Linked DNA regions of Homo sapiens: regions 1, 2 and 4 are each reported to be linked to region 3. Evidence: microRNA targets listed by miRTarBase, many of them from high-throughput screens and not tested one by one. Region 3 holds a microRNA gene; each other region holds the end of a gene's coding sequence.

Region 1 (4,221 bases), not on the chromosome of region 3:
AAAGCACAGACCTGGGTTTGAATGTCGACATCACCACGGGTTCTTTTTGTCTTTGACCATAGGCCAGTGTCTGCTCCACTCTGGGCCTTGATTTCTCAATGTGAAGGTGATTCTACCCCAGCTCATAGAATTTTGGCTAAATCTAGGCTGGGCACGGTGGCTCATGGCTGTAATCCCAGCAGTTTGGGAGATCGAGGCAGGTGGATCACTTGAAGTCAGGAGTTAAGAGACCAGCCTGGCCTACCTGGTGAAACCCCGTCTCTACTAAAAATACAAAAATTAGTTGGGCATGGTGGAGGTTGCAGTGAGCCGAGATCACGCCACTGCACTCCAGCCTGGGCAACAGAGTGAGACTCCATCTCAAAAAGAAAATAATTTTGGCTAAATCTAGATGACATGATGCATATAAAGTTCCTAGTGCAGTGCTTTGAACCTAGCAAGGATTTCAGAAATAGTGACCCCTCTCCCTCAGTCATCTCTTTTCCTCTCTTCCACTGAATGGGCTTCCTGAGTTTCTTCTTCGTCCTCCCCCCTAGGTTGGCTTCTTCAAGCGTCAGTACAAGGAAATGATGGAGGAGGCAAATGGACAAATTGCCCCAGAAAACGGGACACAGACCCCCAGCCCGCCCAGTGAGAAATGATCCCCTCTTTGCCTTGGACTTCTTCTCCCCCGCGAGTTTTCCCCACTTACTTACCCTCACCTGTCAGGCCTGACGGGGAGGAACCACTGCACCACCGAGAGAGGCTGGGATGGGCCTGCTTCCTGTCTTTGGGAGAAAACGTCTTGCTTGGGAAGGGGCCTTTGTCTTGTCAAGGTTCCAACTGGAAACCCTTAGGACAGGGTCCCTGCTGTGTTCCCCAAAGGACTTGACTTGCAATTTCTACCTAGAAATACATGGACAATACCCCCAGGCCTCAGTCTCCCTTCTCCCATGAGGCACGAATGATCTTTCTTTCCTTTCTTTTTTTTTTTTTTTCTTTTCTTTTTTTTTTTTTTGAGACGGAGTCTCGCTCTGTCACCCAGGCTGGAGTGCAATGGCGTGATCTCGGCTCACTGCAACCTCCGCCTCCCGGGTTCAAGTAATTCTGCTGTCTCAGCCTCCTGAGTAGCTGGGACTACAGGCACACGCCACCTCGCCCGGCCCGATCTTTCTAAAATACAGTTCTGAATATGCTGCTCATCCCCACCTGTCTTCAACAGCTCCCCATTACCCTCAGGACAATGTCTGAACTCTCCAGCTTCGCGTGAGAAGTCCCCTTCCATCCCAGAGGGTGGGCTTCAGGGCGCACAGCATGAGAGGCTCTGTGCCCCCATCACCCTCGTTTCCAGTGAATTAGTGTCATGTCAGCATCAGCTCAGGGCTTCATCGTGGGGCTCTCAGTTCCGATTTCCCAGGCTGAATTGGGAGTGAGATGCCTGCATGCTGGGTTCTGCACAGCTGGCCTCCCGCGTTGGGCAACATTGCTGGCTGGAAGGGAGGAGCGCCCTCTAGGGAGGGACATGGCCCCGGTGCGGCTGCAGCTCACCCAGCCCCAGGGGCAGAAGAGACCCAACCACTTCTATTTTTTGAGGCTATGAATATAGTACCTGAAAAAATGCCAAGACATGATTATTTTTTTAAAAAGCGTACTTTAAATGTTTGTGTTAATAAATTAAAACATGCACAAAAAGATGCATCTACCGCTCTTGGGAAATATGTCAAAGGTCTAAAAATAAAAAAGCCTTCTGTGGATATGAGTCCTGAAGGATGACACCCATGGGGTCCCTTTACCACGGTGGACCCTGGCCAGCACTGAGGCCTGGGGCCAGGACAAGAAGTTAACCAGAGTAGGGTTGTGAATATCCCTCTCTTGGAAGTAACCTGACCTCTTAATCTGCTCACTCCACTCTCAGGGCTGGTGCCGATGGTAAGCTGGTGGAGCTGTCGGGTGGAGGGGGCATAGAATAGAGAAGGGACAACCTCCAGTGGCTACTTTTCCACCTGGAAAGGTCTCTGGAGTGACCAATACTCACAAGCGTTTCCTACAAGTCCTAGGATGTGTTGAAGGGCACACTGTCTGCATATAGTGAGTGATTGAAGAACATGTTGGGGTCCCACATTGAGAGCTGCTGCCCACAATAAGGTCATTCTTGCTATTATGCCACCATCCTGGCATAAAGTTCATCATGGTGCTTGGCACTGAGCTGGGGGCCTCACAGGACAAGCCATTCCTGACCTCGGAGTGACGCCACTGCAGCTATCACCAGCAAGGGACCCGGGCCGTGTGGATGTTTCAATTAGAAAAACAGAAGGGAGGCAGTTGAGTGATTTGAAGGGAAGATGGAAAGTGGCCCTTTACCTCCAGCCAAAAATGTCTGTCCTATACATCAGCAGAGGCTCCAAAATCCCTGTGGATTTTGAAGCTTTTGAGTCCCCAGGATGACTAATTATTATGCAGTTTCCTCAGAAAGGGAATCAGAAGATAAGGCTTTGTAAGAATTCAGCCCTAATGGCTGGGCACAGTGGCTCATGCCTGTAATCCCAGCACTTTGGGAGGCCGAGGCAGGAGGATTGTTTGTGCTCAGAAATTTGAGACCACCCTGGGTAATATATTGAAACCTTGTGTCTACAAAAAAATTTAAAAATTACCCAGGCATGGTGGCATGTGCTTGTAGTCCCAGCTACTTGGTAGGCTGAAGCAGGAGGATCACTTGAGCCTGGGAGGTTGAGGATACAGTGAGCTGTGATTTGGACCACCACACTCCAGCCTGGGCAACAGAGAAAGATCATGTCTCAGAAAAAAAAAAAAAAATTGACCCTAGAGTGGTGTTTCTCAAAATGTGTTCCACGAACCACTGGTGGTCAATGATGGTCTTCTAAGTGGAAGGTTTTAGAGAAAAAGAGCAAGAAACCCATACATCTCAAACATTTGAAACTAGTGATTTGCACAGAAATAGTGTTGTGGCCTTAATAATTGTGTGGCACACGGACTCCAGGGACTACAGTGGGTTCTTGTCTAAATTCAGGCAACAAGTTGTTATTTTCTATTTTATTTTATTATTATTATTTTTTGAGATAGTCTCACTTTGTCTCCCGGGCTGGAGTGTAGTGGCACGATCTCGGCTCAACGCAACCTCTGTCTCCTGGGTTCAAGTGATGCCTCTGCCTCAGCCTCCCAAGTAGCTGGGAGTACAGGGGCGTACCACCATGCCCATTTTTATTTATTTATTTTTGAGACAGAGTCTCGCTCTGTCACCCAGGCTGGAGTGCAGTGGCATGATCTTGGCTCACTGCAACCTCCGCCTCCCAGGTTCAAGTTCAAGCGATTCTCCTGCCTCAGCCTCTGGAGTAGCTGGGATTACAGGCAGGCACCACCATTTCCAGCTAATTTTTGTATTTTTAGTATAGATGGGGTTTCACCATGTTGACTAGGCTGGTCTCGAACTCCTGACCTCATGATCCGCCCTCCTCGGCCTCCGAAAGTGCTGGGATTAGAGGTATGAGCCACTGTACTTGGCCGACAAGGTGTTATTTTCTGATATTCTTCCTTTGTGTGTTATTGTGTACATTTATTACATTTGCATTTTCAGGGTTGGCTATTGTGTTGCATTAGATCCCCGAATCACAAAATGGATCAATGGCTCAAAAGCATGGAAGTTGTGATTAAAAACTAATCTAATTGCTACAATTTACAATAATGTCATCAAAGTCAATATTGACTTTTAAATATTGAGCCCAGTGCACGTATAGTATAGACATGCATACCGGAATAAGTGATTGTGAGCCAAAACCCGAAAATATCTAGAAGGTATTATACTCCCTGACAGGTAGGTTGTATTGGTTCTGACATGTATTTGTCCCTAGTGTGCTGCCCATTCTGAAACTTTATCAAACAGTCGCATGAACCTCTGAAAGCTTTTGTGTTATTTTCTTATTTATTTATTTATTGAGATGGAGTCTTGCTCTGTCGCCCAGGCTGGAGTGCAGTGGCATCATCTTGGCTCACTGCAACCTTTGCCTCCTGGGTTCAAGTGATTCTCCTGCCTCAGCCTCTTGAGTAGCTGGGATTACAGGCGCGCACCACCACGCCCAGCTAATTTTTGTATTTTTAGTATAGACGGGGGTTTCACCATGTTGGTCAGGCTGGTCTCGAACCCCTGACCTCATGATCTGCCTGCCTCAGGTAAAGCAATAGAGATTTCTTAGAACAACTGCTACATGTAGCTTTCCTATTCAAAAG
Region 2 (4,221 bases), not on the chromosome of region 3:
CCGGGCCCCATCTGGAGGCCAAGTGGCCTTGGGCAAGTCAGCCCCTGCCTGGGCCGCAATTCCCTCCTCTGACATCTCTGGCCTAGACTCGGCGTGAAGGTCACACGACTGTGGCAGGCCATGTGTCCAGACGCCTCAGTTGCTCAGCTCTGGGCCCGCAGATGAGGCCATGGGACACCCTCAAAGCCGGCACACACCCAAGGGTTCACCCTAGATCTACATCCCAGGCAAGCGGCAAACCAACAGGCAGGCACAGTGGATGAGCCCATTTGCAACTGCAGCAACACTAAGGACCAGTGCGGACAGTCTACACTGGCTGCGACGAGTACAAGCTCTCAGGCCAGGTGGAAATGGAATTGAGAAACCTAGGCGCTGCCCATCAGACCACAGGCACCGAACAGCAGATCTGTTCACTGGGATGGCAACACGTTTATCAGCTCAGACGTGTTCCGGTCCCCTGCAGTACATGGCAGCACCAGAGCACACATGGCCATGTTCCTACATGGTGGTGCCAGCACGGGATGCCACCCAGGGCTCATCTCGTCCTCCTCCTCCTCCTCCTCCTCACACCAGGACCAGCCTGGCTCACTAGTGGGCATGGGCCGGGCACACCATCCCCCCAGGTCAGCCTGGATCACCAGCGGGCACGGGCCGGGCACACCATCCCCCCAACCAGCGTGCTGCCTCATGCCAGGACCAGCCTGGCTCACCAGCAGGCACGGGCCAGGCACACCATCCCTCCCGACCAGTGTGCTGCCTCCACATCTAGGCGCCTTGGCCTGACGGCTAATACCGTTCCGGTTACAATGAAGGAAATCTCGCCACTTTTCTCCTGTGCAGAAGAAAATGCACACAGTCCCCATGGCTATAACCCACCAGCAGGCACGGGGGACCTCTGGTGTCTCATGTTGGTGCCCAGTGCCTCAGCCTGGCCTCCCCACGCGACCTGCAGGGGCGGCTTCACGGCAGGCCAGCTGTGGTGCCCTGCGCAGTGGTTACTGCAGGAGGTGATCTCTTCACTGTAGCTGGACAAGGGTGGCCCTCTACCGACTTCTGGTGTTCTAGGCCTGGTGAGCAGCTTCCTGGAGGGAGACAGAGGACTCTCCTGACTCCACACCAGGTGGTGGCTCAGAAAGCACAGGGCGAGGCCACCTGGCGTGGCCGCAGTGAGGACGGCAACACACCACAAGATGTGGCCCTGCTGGGGCAGCAGGTGGCTCGGCTCACTCAACCATTCACTCAGACACGCTGCAACTGTTTATTCCAGAATCAGAGGTTGGAAACCCAACTGTATATAGACTGAAAGCAAAACAAATACACAACTGAACACAATATATGCAGTTATCCAGCAAGACAGGCAACGCAACACAATATATGCAGTTATTGACAAGACAGGTGCACAGGCACAGCACACAGAGTGAGATGAAGGCAGCCTAGCGAGCAGAGGCTCTGCAGCACGGAGGGCTGGGAAGGCCATCGCTCGAGTTAATCCAATCCCAGTGCTTCAGGACACCTTGGGCCACGTTGACATCTCTCTTTTCCTGGGAGGAGCCCTAGGGTACAGCTGCATGGTTCCATGGAGTTTCAGGCGTCTGCCAGCTCTGTTTCACTGTTTGTGGTTAAACTGCTTTCTCCTTTTTAAAAAAAAATTTTTTGCCAGGTGCAGTGGCTCACGCCTGTAATCCCAGCATTTTGGGAGGCTGAGGTGGTTGGATCACCTGAGGTCAGAAATTCCAGCCTGACCGGCCCGATCAACATGGCGAAACCCGTCTCAACTAAGAATACAATTAGCCAGGCGCGGTGGCGCGCGCCTGTAATCCCAGCTACTCCAGAGGCTGAGGCAGGAGAATCGCTTGAACCCAGGAGGCGGAGGTTGCTGTGAGCCGAGATCACGCCACTGAACTCCAGCCTGGGTGACAAAGTGAGACTCTGTCTCAAAAAAAAAAAAAAAATTTGTAGAGACAGAGTCTCCCATGTAGAAACTCCTGGACTCCAGCAATCCTCCCACCTTGGCCTCCCAGTGTGCTGGGATTATAGGGCACGAGCCACCGTGCCTGGCCTCTCCTTTCTTTTTAAGGCAAGCTCATGCCCACAGTGCAGTGCCAGAATGGAGGGGGCTCCATCACCCTGAGCACAGAGGGCTTCATGGCGAGTGGATGGGCCAGGGCCGTGTGAGAAGAAACCTGTCTGCCAAGGGTGACAGGGAAGTCTTCTGCGGGAGGCTGGACCACCTGAATATCCTCAACCCCTCAGGGTCAGACGGAACCTTTACCCCCGACTCCCACCCCACGACAGTGCTGATGATGAGCTGGGGCCCCCTGCACCCACCCAGCTGGTGCGGGCAGCCTTCTCAATTTTCCATTCTCGTGTCTGTCACCCTTGCCCCAGTGCGAGTCCGACTGAAAGACTGAATGTACAAGTTTGAGTTGGGGCCTGGGTTGCCAGGCCTCCAGGGCCCTGAGTATGGTCCAGGAGGGTGGTGACTGGCTGTGAGGAATGGCCCAGGGCCGAGTGTGGTCCAGGAGGGTGGTGACTGGCTGTGAGGAATGGGAGGAGGGTGGTGACTGGCTGTGAGGAATGGCCCAGGGCCGAGTATGGTCCAGGAGGGTGGTGACTGGCTGTGAGGAATGGGAGGAGGGTGGTGACTGGCTGTGAGGAATGGGGCCTACTGTTGTCAGAAACTACAGTTTTTCTAAGAAAAGCTGAAAATCCAGATTTGTACGTAAGTCTCCTGATTCTAAAAGGCTGACAGTTATTAATGTTCTGGCAAAAACATTTTCAAGGAAAATATGAGTGGGTAAAAGAAAGAGCCAAAATGGGCAGGGATCTGGGACTGTGGACTGCCTGCCCTAACAACCCCAGGGCCACAGGAGTCCACAGGCACAGCCACCCCACCCTCTGCCCTCACTCCCACATCAAATCACCTTCAAGTCATGTGCATTAGAACCTCTGGGGGTCCTAGCTCTTCACAGGACACTTTCTGGATTTTTCTTTTTAAACCTAAAATACAGTAGTCTGTCTCCATTCCCACTCTTTGGGACTTTTTCACAATCTTAGGATGAAGGGATAAATTGGGGAAGTGCTCCTCTCATGTTAAAACGTTCCAATCTGCCAGGCACGGTGGCTCATGCCTGCAGTCCTGGCACTTTGGGAGGCCAAGGCGGGTGGATCAGGAGGTCAGGAATTCAATACCAGCCTGGCCAACATAGTGAAACCCCATCTCTACTAAAAATACAAAAATTAGCTGGGCATGGTGGTGTGCGCGTTAGTCCCAGCTACTCGGGAGGCTGGGGCAAGAGAATCGCTTGAACCCGGGAGGCAGAGGTTGCAGTGAGCTGAGATTGCGCCATTGCACTCCAGCCTGGGTGACAGAGTGAGACTCCGTCTCAAAAAAAAAAAAAGAAAAAAAAAGTTCCAATCCCACACCTATTATGAAGATAGCACCACATGAAACTGCCTGAGGGGCCTCCAATAAACGGGGTAGCAGGGAACTCGGAGAAACCAAAGTAATCCATTGAGCGGTTTTCTTAAGTGTCTTTAATACTCCACTCAGGGCAGCCCCTCCCTCTACTGAGAGGCTCTTGGCTCTGGCCCCAAGAGCAGCTGGAAGGCCCTGGCCTGACTTCACCACTTGATGTCCAGGCTGTGTGTGCCACGCTCCTGGCTCTGGTACGTGGTATGCAGCACCTCTCGGGCCTTGGGGGAGTTGATCCCCTCCAGCCACTCCTGGTACAGCTCCTGCACGTGTGCACTGGACTCCGGACGCCGCACAGGGATGTCAGCGTAAATGCCTTCCATCTGCCGCAGCAGGGCCTTATCCGCATGTCCGTCTGGAGTCTGGGCTTGGCCTCTGCCATTTAAGCATCCTGAAAGATAAACACAGGTAAGTTTATCCTGGGCTCAGGCGATCTTTCTGCCTTAGCTTCCTGAGCAGCTAGAACTACAGACACACACCACCTTGCCCGGCTGATTTTTAAATTTTTTGTAGAGATTGGGCGGGAGGGGCGGGTGTTGCTATGTTGCTCAGGCTGGTCTTGAACTCCTGGCTTCAAGCGGCAATCCTACTTCGAGCTGGGACCACTGGCGTGAGCCACCGCACCCAGCCGGGATAGTCTTAAGGAAGTTTTGCCTCACAGGGAAGAGTTGGAAGCAGGAGAGGAATAAAGGGGACGTGGAATGTTGTGTGGCCTAAGGCTAGGGCTGGCTGAACAGGCCAGGGTC
Region 3 (4,221 bases):
AAGTTCAGTTCTGTAGCAGAAAGCACATGGTAAAATGTGCATTCCTTTGTCTGTTAAAGAGCCCAGGAAACATTTTTACAGTGTATTTAATATGTGTAAGGAAATAATCACAGCCCTCCACTAAACATACAATGCAAGTATTTTCCTTCAAAGTCTGGTAGCAACCCTGTCCAATACCAGGACAGTAAGTAGGTAAACATGCAGTGAGCTTCATCCATGGCGGCACTACTTGGGGGCACTTGGTGGGGGACAGGGGGCTCACCTTTTTCAGGCATCTAGATCAGGCAAGCTACAGCCTGCTGGCCAAAGCTAGGTGATCCCCTCTTTATAAACAGCCCATGAGCGAAGAACAGTTTTTACATTTTTAAATGTTAGAAGATGGAGCAAAAGGAGAATACCATATCATGACACAGGAAAATTATATGCTATTCAAATTACAGTGTCCATAAATAAAGTTTTATTGGAACACAGTCATGCGCATCTGTTTACTATTGCCTATGGCTGCTTTTGTACTTGGACAGATATCTTATGGCCCTACAAAGCCTAAAATACTTACCATCTGGCTTTTTACAGAAAATGTTTGCCGATCTCTGCTCTAAAATTAAGCAGTTTAGCAAATTGGGTTTCCAGGAGGTCAATGGGAACGAGCCCTGGGCTAGAATTCCCAACACCCAGCTCTGCTGGGGATGTGACTCCACTCCATTGGACTGGAGTTTCCTCCTCTGTAACATAAGAGGGCTTTGCTGAACGAGCCCTTCCAACTCTTAATCATCTATAGTGTATGTTGATTCCAGTCTATTCAATGGTTCCCAGGTGCCAGTGGGATAAAAGTGCAGAGCTCTGGTCTGGGACAAAGCCACAGGATTAGAAAGTGACTGAAATAGACAAAGAACTGGATAGTTGCTGTGCGTATACAGAGCAGATCTGAAAAGTGACACTCTACAAGGTTCAAAAACATATACTTTGGACATCTTCATGTGCCCTAGTTTTATAGATTCTTTTAACCGTGGGGAAGAAGGAAATGGTTGAAACTAATTATTGAGGAAGGCTGGCAACCCCAAAATTCAGGTTTTCAAAATCTAATTTAGCACTTACTGCGGGTTCGTTGAAATTAACCAGGTAATTGACATCTCTGGTTCTTTTAGTAGTAGGGAAGAGTTTCTGTTGTCTTTTCTATTTTCTCAATACTAACATGTAGTTCTTTATCTGCAGTGCAAGGCATCACGGGTTGTTAGCATCGGCACGTCAGCCTGGGGTCTGTCACTATGGAACTAAACTGGCCTGCTGCTACGGCTGGAGAAGAAACAGCAAGGGAGTCTGTGAAGGTAATTTTGTAAAAACTCAGACCCTGCACTTGGATCAGGGCCCTTAGGTTTTTATCTGTCATACCATGAACTGCCACAAAATTGCCAGTGGATCTCTCAGGCAAGGACATGCATAACTACCAATAACCAAGGTCTGGGTTCCTATGAGATCTCTTCCCAGACAAAATGTGGCTGACGCCATCATACTTGGCATGATTTATTTTAGAAGACTGTCTTGTCAATTATTTTTGTGATTATCTTAATGAGTATGACTGGGTTGTTTGTTTTTGGTTTTCTTTTTAATCTAAAGGAACTAAGATGGGCAAAAGCAGGCTGGTAAATTTCTCCTCTAATTATAATTTAAGTGATTTCCAATGCAATAAACTTTAATTATTAATCACCCAACCAGTAGGCTTCAGCCACAAAATAAGTACACCTTTTAGCTTATAGATTTGTAACTCACATTTTTAAAATTCATACTGCCAATTTCTAAATGCTTTCAAGGTACATATGCATATATGCAAAGATTTTAAGTATTTTGCTGATTTTTTTGTACATTGCAAACCAAGGAACCATAATTTGCCTTGGACATTGTTTCTCAGACTATGTGTTAGGAACTCCGAGAGAGGCCTCTGATCATTTCAAGGAGGTTGGGAAGGGCAGAGATGAGCATAAAGTTTTTGCCTTGTTTTTCTTTTTATGACTTTCCATAACGACCAACACTGGCAGTGTAGCAGAACCAAATCCACATTCCTCCTGACTGTCTCACCAGGGGTGTATTCCTTCAGGGCAGTAGTCTACTCTCACTGTCCCTGTGTCCTTCAGTAGGTAGCATGTGCCTCATCCTAAGTTATTTATCTATTAAATGGGATAACAACACAGTTGCAGGTCCCATAAAAGCACTAACATGTTAGCTATTTTTAGGAATAACAATGCTACCTTCTTTTTGCTAGTCTGTTCCTGCCCCAACCTCCTTCTCTCTGGCTGGTTAAAAAATATCTGGATTGACCATAAGTGGGGTCAGAACTTGATAATATCCAAAATCTATAAAACAATAGAAAACATTGATATCGTTCCCACATGTTCCATATTATGCAAAACCTTCTGCCATCATAGTTTGCTTGTGACAAGATGACAAGAGCATAAAAATACTAGACAAAAACAAAGATCATCATTGCCCACTTAGATAAAGGAAGTTAGAATATCCTCCTGGGACTTGTGTCAATTAAAAGGGTGGGTCCTCATCCTGATTGGATTGATAGTGTCATGATCAAGGGCATTGAGAACCAGACTGACGTGGGTGACCTTGGGCAAGCTAGCTAAGGTAAGCTAGCTAAGGCTCAATTTCCTCCTCTGCAACCTGGAGAGAGCAATACCTACCTCTGAGAGTAAGGAATGTATGCATTAAAGGGTGAGTTCATTACCTGGCATGCATAGAAAATACCTCATAAATTACCATTCCTTCAGGAAGGACCAATAATTCTCATCACAGACTTCTCGTCATTAAAGCACCAGGTGATGGGGGGATTAAATGTGGCTTTATTCTTTTGCTAGACACAACATAACACATTTTTATTTGAAGTCAGTCAGGTGGAAAGGGGCAAAAACCACGTGAAACACATGATTTAGAGTCTCTCTTACAGTTGCACGAACATCAGCGTCTACTGCCATAAAACTTGTGAGACCCAGCATGTCGCTGGTGAATAAATGAAGGCAAGGTGTTAAAAGGGCAAGTGCAGGGGGTTCAAGCAAAATGCTCACTATGCAAGTTTTGCAAGCTGAAGAGACGGTCAGCACACCTACTGCTCCAGTCAAATGTTCAGGTCTTAAATTGCAATGATTTTTAGATCTAAAATGTGTATCATGTTTTATCCAATTTGCATGGTCCTTCTTGATGGTAAAGTCATGTTTCTTGAAGCACCAAATAACAGGGTAGTTATTCCCTGATTGCTGGGTTTCTGATTTCTAAGCCAGAGTTGTGGGATGCATGATAATAAGAATACACATCAACCTGCCCCAACAAGGAGAGCCAGACCCCAGGCTGTGAGGTCACAGTCTACCCAGGCCTTCCCCTCTGTCCATCTATTTGCCCTTCACTCCTTTTGAAGCCCTGCCTCTATGTATCCTGGAGCCTTCTAGCTCTCAGCCTCTACCCTGTCTAAATCTCCTCCCAAGGCAGGGTCTCATCAGTTCGATATCATTAACCTTAAAATGTATGCCACTTCAGTGAGATGAAATACAGAATTGTCCATAAACAAGTACCTGATGAAAAGCTTCAGATAGAGAAGTTTGGGGGAGAACCAAATAAGACTTTTACTTTGTCTAAATCATGCTTCAATCTCAGGCCATTTTAAACACAAACTGAATTTCCCTTGCTGTCGATTGGCTGTTGAAGTCACAGATCCAAAGTTACTGTAAATTGAAAACATCTTACTGAAGCTTTAACCTTATAGCAAGGGTATTATTCACCATTTCTCCTATGTTCTATTTGGCATTTATGCTGGGCTTTCCTGTCTGGACCACATTGGAAATCAGTTTCCAGGGAACAACTAGAGGTCTTCAGGGCTTAAAAAAAAAAAAAAAGATTTATTTTTCTAACATCTGAATTTAAAGTTGCAACTCCAAGTACATATCCATAACAAAGTAGACACTGGAAATTAAATTCTCTCTCTTTTGTCTCTAAAAGTGGAAAAACCTTGCTGGGGAAGCATTTTTCCCTTATGATTTGTTCAGGGCCATAAAATGTTCCCCCATTAAAAGTTCTACAGTAATTACTTTATTCATTATTCAAAAATATTCAAATATTTAACATGTTTACAACACTATATTAAATGCTACAGGGGAAACAATGATGAATGTTTAAGTCCCTGTCCTGAAGGCACTTGGAAACAAGTAGTGGATGAAAGACAAGCACTGT
Region 4 (4,000 bases), not on the chromosome of region 3:
GGTTTCACCATGTTGGCCAGGCTGGTCTTAAACTCCTGACCTCAGGTGATCCACCTGCCTTGGCCTCCCAAAGTGCTGGGATTACAGGCATGAGCCACCACGCCCGGCCTTATTTTAGCTTCCACCTATAAGTGAGATTATGCAGTATTTGTCTTTCTGTGTCTGGCTTATTTTGCTTAGCATAGTGTCCTCGATGGAGGACATTTCTAATAGGGGTAATAGCATTCACTTTACTTCTGATCTAATGTGTAATCTCTTTGCTACAGGAAAAGAAAATGTTAAAATGTGATGTTGGATATGTTAAGTAGGTATACATGCCCTTACTGACCCTTTTGCTCTGTGTATCAGGTACTATTTGTTTTCCCTCATCATGAATTTGAGCCGTGATGCTTATGAGATTCGCCTACTGATGGAGCAAGAGTCTTCTGCTTGTAGCCGGCGACTGAAAGGTTCTGGAGGAGGAGTCCCAGGAGGAAGTGAAACTGGGGGACTTGGGGGACCAGGGACTCCAGGAGGAGGTCTGCCCCAACTGGCTCTGAAACTTCGGCTGCAAGTCCTGCTCCTGGCTCGAGTCCTTAGAGGTCATCCCCCACTTCTGCTAGACGTGGTCAGAAATGCCTGTGATCTCTTCATTCCTCTGGACAAACTAGGCCTCTGGCGCTGTGGCCCTGGGATTGTGGGGCTTTGTGGCCTCGTGTCCTCCATCCTGTCTATTCTCACCCTAATCTATCCCTGGCTACGACTCAAGCCCTGACCTTCCGGTACAGGATAAGGAGGGGACCTGAATTGGTGAGATGGAATCTTAGATCGTCCCCCATGTGCCAGCCTCATTCGAATTCTACTCTTTGGTTAAAGTTAGAAATTCAGAGATTTAGGGGTGGAGGAAGAGCTTTGGGGAAGATGAGGTAAGGAAAGATGACTCGTGAAGTTAATAGGATGTCTCTAATTTCTAGATGTGCCTGAGCTTCTGTTCTTTTCCTCTTTCTTTGTGTCTCTCTTGAATATATTTACTTTGTGTCTCTTAACTCTGTTTAAGGTTCTGTGTCTATGCATCTCTCTCTTTCTTTTTTCAACCTTCTCATTCTCCTATCCAGGGATTTAATCAGCAGAATTACTTTTTGATAGGGGAGGTATAAGGTTTGGCCTGTAAGGTTCTAACTGCCTTCTTTTTTCTCACAGAGGTGGCTTATGGCAGATTTTTCCTCCTTCAAACTCCAAACATAATTTTTAAGACTATGTGCCAGTGGACTCTTCCCTTATATCTCTGCACCACAAGTTGTTGGATGTTTCCTCTTCCTCCCTTATGTCTACCTCACCAACCTCGCTCATCATTTGGCCCTTATCCTTCCTTGTACACCTACCTTCAGATTTCTGCTTACACTTTGATTTCAGAGCTTTATTCCCCAGTCTGTTCTTACTCCTTTGTCGCTTATCCAGAATGATGCTATGTGTAGCATCTTGCTGTAAATCCTGTACAATGATTCTGTGTAAATAGCTGTGGCCTATGCCAATAATGAAGAGCAAGCCTTTCAGGTAAGCAAATTAAAGTTCAGTTTGCTCATCGACATTTGGTCTGGTCCCTCATTTTTTGGTAATTTGAGGCCCCTATTCCTGTCACTGTGGTTTGGGTTTTTCTCGGGATTAGCCACTAACATCACCCACATTATTTTTCTTGAGCACCTACAGTATGTAAAGCAACATACTTAGTGGGCATCCAAAAATCTAAGAAGCTCCACACTCCCAACTTTAAGAAGTTTATAACCTAGCTGAGGAGTTGGGGTGGCAGAGGAGTGGTCTAATACTAAAGTTATTGTCCTGGCTCCACAAAGCACATCTCATACCAGTTCAGATATAATCCCTCTAAGAAGCAGAATGCCATATGACAGCATAGGCTAAGAGCCAAGGACAGAACCAAGTGGAGTGGGGCTGGTAAGGATTTGGAGCTGTGTCTTCACAAGTTGAGACTCCCCTGGGTGGGTAGGGAAATGATACCACTGCTATCAGCTCTTTCATTTTCCATATTCCAGGTTGAGATAAATAAGGTTAGGAAGTGAATCTATCGGCCAGGCGTGGTGGCTCACGCCGGTAATCCCAGCACTTTGGGAGGCCGAGGCAGGTGGATCTCTTAAGGTCAGGAGTTCAAGACCAGCCTGGCCAACATGGTGAAACCCTGCCTCTACTAAAAATAAAAAATTAGCCAGGCATGGTGGCATGTGCCTGTAGTCCCAGCTACCTGGGAGGCTGAGGCATGAGAAATGCTTGAACGTGGGAGACAGAGGTTGCAGTGAGCCAAGATTGTGCCACTGCACTCCAGCCTGGGTGACAGAGTGAGACTCTGCCTTAAAAAAGAAAAAAAAAAATCTGAATCTATCTCCTATCTCCCAGCTGGGTGCAGTGGCTCACTTTGGGAGGCTGAGGTGGGAGGATTCCTTGAGTTCAGGAGTTCAAGACCAGCCTGGGTAACATAGTGAAACCCTGTCTGTATTCTCAATATAAATAATTTGTCTAAAACTTTTAAACAAAAGTTTAAGATTCTTTTCTTATAAAAAAGAATCCATCTCCCACTCCTGTTCCAAATTTGAGGAAAGCATTATTGACCTGGCAACAATAAACAGTAGAAAAAAAGAAATAGCAGAAATGGGCAAAAAAATATGTTCTCTGGATATAGAGATGAGGCCTCCAGGGGGCAGCACCAAGGCAGAGAAATAGACTAAGATCGCTCAGTGTTTTCCTTGGTCTGGGGCTCCCCACAGTTCCCCACCATCACTCCTCCCATTCCTTCCAACTTTATTTTTAGCTGCCATTGGGAGGGGGCAGGATGGGAGGGAAAGTGAAGAAAACAGAAAAGGAGAGGGACAGAGGCCAGAGGACTTCTCATACTGGACAGAAACCGATCAGGCATGGAACTCCCCTTCGTCACTCACCTGTTCTTGCCCCTGGTGTTCCTGACAGGTGAGGGAAGTTAACTTCTTGGTTTCTGGTGGGGATGGAAGATACATAGATTGTTTGGAATTGGGACCATTATAGTTAAAATTCTTTGGGATTTAGGTTAGGAAGCGAACACTGGTTGTACATTTCTTGTATGTGTGTCTGTGTCCTTGTGCATTTTTATGCCCTCACATATGACTGTTTGAATATTGAGACTGGCAGGGGCTAAAGCTGCCTAGGACCTTGTGTAAGATTTGTATCTAATAATTATATAATATATAATGTATAATTATATATTATATATAATATACATATAATATATAACAATTATATATTATATATAATATACATATAATATATAACATAATTATATATTATATATAATATACATATAATATGTAACATAATTATATATTATATATAATATACATATAATATATAACATAATTATATATTATATATAATATACATATAATATATAACATAATTATATATTATATATAATATACATATAATATATAACATAATTATATATTATATAGTTATATATTGTATATAATAATTATTATTATTTTTTAAAGATAGGGTCTCACTTTGTTGTCTAGGCTGGAGTGCAGTGGTGCAACCACAGCTCAGTAGTTGGGACTACTAGGTACGCGCCACCACGCACAGCTAATTTTTTTTTTTGAAACAGGGTCTCACTCTGTCATTCAAGCTGGAGTGCAGTGGCATGATCATGGCTCACTCTAGCCTCAACCTCCCAGGCTGAGGTGATCCTTCCACCTTAGCCTCCCGAGTAGCTGGGACTATAGGCGTGTGCTACCACGCCTGGCTAATTTTTTTTTTTTTAGAGACAGAGTTTTGCTATGTTGGCCAGGCTGGTCTTTAACTCCTGGACTCAAGCAATCCGCCCCCGACAGCCACCCAAAGTGCCGGGATTATAGGCATGAGCCACCATGCTTGGCTGAGATTTGTATCTAAATATATAAAATCTTCATCCTAAGCCCTATAGGGGTAAGGAGACAAAAAAGAAATGTGATGTGACCTTCCACGTGGCTAGTCTGATTCCTAT

Evidence for each region. Region 3 holds the annotated microRNA hsa-miR-6086 (GGAGGUUGGGAAGGGCAGAG, at 1,950-1,969, shown strand). A microRNA usually pairs through its seed, bases 2 to 8, with sites in the 3' UTR of a target mRNA and lowers its output. Matches are read on the target gene's strand: a 7mer-m8 pairs with bases 2 to 8, a 7mer-A1 pairs with bases 2 to 7 and ends in A, and an 8mer does both.
Region 1: miRTarBase lists ITGAX as a target of hsa-miR-6086. Seed matches in the 3' UTR shown: 7mer-m8 at 1,058-1,064.
Region 2: miRTarBase lists NARF as a target of hsa-miR-6086. Seed matches in the 3' UTR shown: 7mer-m8 at 3,322-3,328, 7mer-m8 at 1,870-1,876 and 7mer-m8 at 1,273-1,279.
Region 4: the mRNA of PEX11B is a reported target of hsa-miR-6086. Seed matches in the 3' UTR shown: 7mer-m8 at 1,317-1,323.

The regions. Positions count from the first base shown.
Region 1 is chr16:31,381,267-31,385,487 of GRCh38, forward strand. It overlaps ITGAX (integrin subunit alpha X), which reads left to right. Exons shown (of 30, transcript NM_000887.5): 30 at 537-1,733. The coding sequence ends at 641. Among named protein-coding and RNA genes, the nearest start is that of ITGAD, 10 kb to the right of the region's middle. RefSeq lists enhancers at 841-1,341, 1,342-1,842.
Region 2 is chr17:82,487,561-82,491,781 of GRCh38, reverse strand. It overlaps NARF (nuclear prelamin A recognition factor), which reads right to left. Exons shown (of 11, transcript NM_012336.4): 11 at 1,245-3,866. The coding sequence ends at 3,625. Among named protein-coding and RNA genes, the nearest start is that of TRX-CAT1-8, 5.1 kb to the left of the region's middle. RefSeq lists an enhancer at 931-1,130.
Region 3 is chrX:13,588,344-13,592,564 of GRCh38, forward strand. MIR6086 (microRNA 6086) reads left to right here and starts at 1,949; the gene lies at 1,949-2,003. It overlaps EGFL6 (EGF like domain multiple 6), which reads left to right. Exons shown (of 12, transcript NM_015507.4): 2 at 1,213-1,325.
Region 4 is chr1:145,908,915-145,912,914 of GRCh38, reverse strand. It overlaps PEX11B (peroxisomal biogenesis factor 11 beta), which reads left to right. Exons shown (of 4, transcript NM_003846.3): 4 at 349-1,565. The coding sequence ends at 754. It overlaps ITGA10 (integrin subunit alpha 10), which reads left to right and starts at 2,865. Exons shown (of 30, transcript NM_003637.5): 1 at 2,865-2,952. The coding sequence starts at 2,901.